2 separate regions of the Homo sapiens genome follow, and region 2 is linked to region 1. Evidence: fine-mapped expression QTL. A gene starts in region 1. The other region holds a variant in brackets. All regions are shown on one strand. Distances are from middle to middle. Region 1 holds the start of CWC15 (CWC15 spliceosome associated protein). Region 2 has its middle 7.3 kb from the start of KDM4E.

What was found. PIP is the estimated chance that this variant, and not a neighbour inherited with it, causes the effect.
Region 2: its variant is the best candidate, but not a certain one, in a credible set for the expression of CWC15 in aorta (GTEx, PIP 0.62).

Annotation. Positions count from the first base shown.
Region 1 is chr11:94,972,235-94,974,734 of GRCh38, reverse strand. CWC15 (CWC15 spliceosome associated protein) reads left to right here and starts at 1,179. Exons shown (of 7, transcript NM_016403.4): 1 at 1,179-1,237. KDM4D (lysine demethylase 4D) reads right to left here and starts at 1,026. Exons shown (of 3, transcript NM_018039.3): 1 at 667-1,026. RefSeq lists enhancers at 773-922, 1,243-1,412, 1,127-1,902.
Region 2 is chr11:95,016,459-95,019,490 of GRCh38, reverse strand. No RefSeq gene overlaps it. Among named protein-coding and RNA genes, the nearest start is that of KDM4E, 7.3 kb to the left of the region's middle. The variant A/C (reference allele first, on the strand shown) is at 1,384.

The DNA of each region.
Region 1 (2,500 bases):
TGAACCGTATGTGAAGAGTGAATGAAAAGGAATTTAAGTAGGCACTCCGGGATTTTGGTTTGAGTAACTAGCATGATGATCGCGTCTTTTAGTGAGACTTGTTAAGACTGGAGGAGGGATACCTTCGGTAAGAAAAATCAGGATTTTCATCTTGAACTCTATGACTGAAAGGGCTTTTTCTGCTTTTCTTTCTTCATTAAAAAGTTGCAAAGAATTTAGGGGTAAGAAAGCATTTAAATATTCAATTTTGTGAGTTCCTTACATTTTAAACTAAGTTGGGGAAGTTGAATTTTCATTTGTTTAACAAATATTAATTGAGCAGCTACTATACGTCAAGGTCTATGTGATGAGATACCAAGATGAGCTAAACAACCAAGATCTCTATTCTCAGAATTTGTTTTTATGGAAGGGAGGAGAGACGACTGGTAGGTTTTTGGTTTTCGGGTTTTCTACTTTTCGTTGTCTTATTAAAACTTAACACTTAAGTAGCCATCTTAATAATTACATCTTGTGCTCCTGGTAGTTGGGCCCACCATTGTAAACGCTCTCGTAAATACTGACATCTCCCCTCCCACTAAAACTAACGTTTTTTAAATAAGAAATTTTAGCAAACATTACGAATACAACCTTTGCTTTGAAGTGTTAATATTTTTGCAGGAATGGTACCTTTGTAAAGATCGTGGTTGCCCCGTACATATTTGTTCTTTCTTCATATCCAATTAAATGAAAACACTAGTTTTTCCGAAGCCCAACTCTCTAGGTTTGTTGGTTCTAGCTCAGGAGAAAGGATGGAAGCAGGAGTCGTTGGATTTAAACAGTTTGGTGTAATCCTTTTCCACGCTCTCTCCCGCTAGCCGGGGACGTGGTGTCGGCTACCCGGGGCTTTCCGTCCACGCAGTACCGGAATGAAGGAGTCTGGGAGGGGGTCGGGGACGGAAAAGACGGAAGAGACATTAAGTAATTGGTTCTTGAAGGTATAAAATGAGGTTTAGGGTCTACTCTAAGGCACTGATTTCAAACGCCCGCCCCCTGGGCCGCTTCGGCCCCGCCCCTTAGTGCCGTTACGCCGACTTCCACTTCGGCCACTGCGGATTGGTCGTTGCTTCCGCCCCCGAAGCGCTTGGATTTTGCTTCCGGGTCGTAGGCGCTAGCTCTGGGCGCAGAGGTTTCTGGGAGCCAAGAGTGGTAATGGCGTCTGTATGATCTTCGGAGCCTGCTGCATCGGACCTCGGCCAGTGTGAGCGGCAAGAGGATAGGAGATTATCTTTCTTATCGCGATGGGACGGGAAAGGGCAGTTGGGGTCGGAGTCGGCGGCAGAGTGCAGAGCGCGGGCGGTGGAGGCCCTGGAGCAGCGGGCTAGGGGCGGAACCGAGTGCCTGTCAGGCGCGTCTGGAGCTCTTGGGCCCGCCGAGGAGATCGCAGCGTACAGGCAGCTCGCCTACTGCGTAAAGCGAACCCCAGGTCCTCCCTTCACTACCCTTCGCACCCCTGCAGTGCTGGGCACGGGTGAAGAGGCAGCGAGTTTCTGGTTATAGCCAAAGACTAGCTCACGGGAGGCCGGAGTGATAATTCCGTGGGTGTGTGGGAAGGGGCGGCGCCCCCAGCGCCAGATAACCCTGTTTTCTTCTTTGTATACATGTCTCTACCCTTTTTGAAAGTTGAGAGAATTAGCATCGCCCCCCCCCCAAAAAATCCTCCCAATTCGCCCACCCTCCCCACACACTTGCTTTTCCGACACTAACAGGGTTTTAGTGACTGCATCTGCTGCACAGTATTCTTGTGACTGCTCCAAGCAGAAAGTAACTTGAGGAATGAGTCCCTGATTTTTGGCATCAGAATCCTCTGGGGGTGAGGTTCCTGTTTTTTTTGAACAGGCCTTAAATTATAACCCACAAACGATCTAATTTATAGTATGATGCCTGTTGTAGGAGAAAATTGGCTCAACAAACGGTTGTTTAAGAATTTTTTTCTGTGTAACTGTCATTGAAGTTTAACACACTTTTCTCTGGGACATTTAGTAACTTTGTCAGTGATATTTTTTGTTTGTTTTTAGCTTTTGTTTCTACTAGCCTATTTGCTATTGTGTGAAGTTTAGATAAAATGCAAACCTTACAGAGTCTGGTAGAGTAAGGTTGAGTTGGAAATTTTTAAAACTCAGTCATGGCAGTACTGTATTTTACTAGGGTTTTGACATGTCAAGTGTCATAATTCTTATAATCTATGAGGAATATCTCCATTCCACAGATGACAAAGTTAAGCCAGGTGACTTGCTCAAGCCCATATAGTCAGAAGGAGAATAGGGATGCAAACTCAGATCTTCATGACAGAATTTTTTGTACTAAGGCAAGCCTGAGAAGCCATATTCCTTGTACAGCCTAAGCCTCATAATTTGTTTTCTTGAAAACTTTTGTTTAAGAAGATTAAGCAGGTTTTGGGGAATGAGTTTTAGAACTTATTTTACCAGTATGGATATTGATTAATACTCTATAAAATGAGTGT
Region 2 (3,032 bases), 44 kb before region 1:
GCTGATTCTCTTTTCGGACTCAGCCCGCCTGCACCCAGGTGAAATAAACAGCCTTGTTGCTCACACAAAGCCTGTTTGGGGGTCTCTTCACACGGTCACATGAGACAAACATCAGGTCAAATCATAAAACAGAAAAAGAGCAGCATCAAACTAAAATGAAAAATGATCAAGTTTGAAAATGAATAAATTGAGCACTCCATTCAAGAAACTGGATGCATTAACATCAATAGAAACAATGAAAATAAATTCATAAGAAGAAACCATTGCAAAAGGAAACAGAACACCCAACAGGAATGACAAAGAATGAAAACTGAGTTTTCAAAAAATATGATGAGAAGTAAAAAGCCATCGGCATGAAGATAAATGAAAGTACAAACAAAAACACATTGAGGTAAGAAACAAGCAGCATAGCTAAAAATCTGGTGGAGATGTTTTACAATATTTAACAAAATCTTAGAACAAATTGATGATAATAAGGTTCTCAGTAGGACAAATATCCAAAAGTGCTCCGACAGAGAAATAAAACGACCTACCTTCGGTCAAAAACTCACAATTCCATATGAAAATACTTCAGGACCCAAAGAGAAGGTTTCCTGTTGGTAGCTAAACTCCAAATAAAGCCCCACGTTCCAAAGACCCTGGCTTTATACCTGGGCAACACCCTAACCCAATCAGGGCCCAGCTAATGTAATCACTGGGCTTGGTCCAGATTAGGCATCCCACCCGTCCAAGCCCCTCCCTTTCATTTTGCATTTTAAACCAATCTGAAAACGAAGCTAAGTAGTTAAAAATCAAGGAATGGAAAAAGGCAACCCTGACAAATACCAAACAAAAGAAAACTAAAGCAGCTATGTTAATATCCAATGTAGTTATAGAATTAAAAAGGCACATTTTACAGTTATTGAATAGAAAAATTCACCAGAATAATACAGTGATGAACTTTATGACCCTACGCATAGCACTGACACATGGAAAGCCAGGACTGAGAGTTGTTGTAAAGTCAGACAGTAAAATATGCAATTGTGATGTAGTTTTTAATTTTTTTAGCATTATTCTTTCAGAAACCAATAGAGCAGAGTAGAAAATTAATAATATTATAATAATATGTACAAGCTTAAGAACTTTGAGGAACAAAATTGCAACAATTAAAAAGCAAATGGAAAATGCTTCTCAGTACACAAGAAACATTTATAATAGATAAATTTACCAATACAGGACTACAAAGTAAATATCAAATTAAAATCCCATAGAATGCATATACAGAAAACAATCTTGACCAAAATGAAATGAAATTGAAAGTCAACAATACAAAAGCTGAATCCAACCATATTTATTTGAAAATTTATATTCACATTTCTAAAATCTTATTGATCTTCAGGTTGC[A/C]CTCAAGCAGCGAGTAAAAATGAAACAAAACAAAAATATGCAAAAGAGAATGAAATATAAAAATGATCATGGATAAATAAGCAAAAGGGAAAATGTATACTGAAATAGAAATGATTAATAAAACTAAAATATGATACTTTTAAATAAAAAATAAGTAGCAGTATTGATAACAAAGCACTTGCTAGGCCTAGGCAAGTGATATACAGACAAAGCCCAAAGCATTAGCAGTAGTGAAAAATAAAAACTTGGTAAATACACACAGTCAAAAATGGGGTTACTTTGAGGGGCACAAGGAAAACAACTTCCAACAGCCAAATCTCCAAGCCGAGCAAGAAAATATATAAATTGAATTATAATCCAAGCATGAAATAAATATGAGTTCGTACTGATGTAAATTAAAAATTAAATAAATTAACAAATAGCTGAGAAGTGACAAAATTCTTTTTCATAAGAATTCTAAATGAATTAGGCCAGGCACAATTAGGCTGGGCGAGGTGGCTCATGCCTGTAATCCTAGCACTTTGGGAGGACGAGATATCGGCCTCCAGAGATTGGAATGACTTGAGGTCAGGAGTTCGAGGCCAGCCTGGCCAATATGGTGAAACCACATCTCTAATAAATATACAAAAATTAGCCGGGCATGGTGGCACATGCCTGTAATCCCAGCTACTCAGGAGGCTGAGGCTGAGGCAAGAGAAACACTGGAAGAGGTTGCAGTGAGCTGAGATTGTGCCATTGCACCCCAGCCTGGGTGACAGAGCGAGACTGTCTAAAAAAAAAATTCTAAATGGATTAAATTAATTAAAATTGAGAGCCTTACTAAAATTCTGTGGGGGCAATTAAGGAAGGCTAGTATTAAGGGGAGGGGTGGCTTGCTATAATTTTAATTTACAAAATATATGTGAGTTTGTCCATTTCTGTGCATTATCTTCTTTTTTTTTTTTTTTTCCTAAGACAGAGTCGTGCTCTGTCGCCCAGGCTGGAGTGCAGTGGTGTGATCTCAGCTCACTGCAACCTCTGCCTTCTAGGTTCAAGCAATTCTTCTGCCTCAGCCTCCCAAGTAGCTGGGACTACAAGCGTGCACCACAATGCCCAGCTAATTTTTGTATTTTTAGTGGAGATAGGGTTTCACCATGTTGATCAGGCTGGTCTCAAACTCCTGACCTCAAGTTATCTGCCCACCTTAGCCTCCCAAAGTGCTGGGATTACAGGCATGAGCCACTGCGCCTGGCCACTGCTGTGCATTTTCAATGTTAACATAAATCTAAGCAACTGTCACTCTCACTTGTGTTATTTAGATGGTGTAACTGCTTCTTCTGCTTACACACTCTCCACAGAGCAACCAAGCTGATTATTTAAATGTATAAATCACATTTCGTCAACTGCTGTTTAAAACTTCCAGTGCCTTCTCATTTCAAGTTGAACACACACCAAATAATGTACTTCACATGAGACTCAGGGCCCTACATGCTTTGCCCCCTGTCTCTCTCCCTCTCTCCCTCTTTCTGTCTATGCCCCTGTCTATGCCCCAGGCACAAATGAGCTTCTTTGTATTCCTGGAAAAACAAAATCACTAAGTTCCATGGTAGGTCTGTTGCACTTGCTGTTCCCTGAAGGTGGGAAACTCTACCCTGGACCTCCCAATTTTG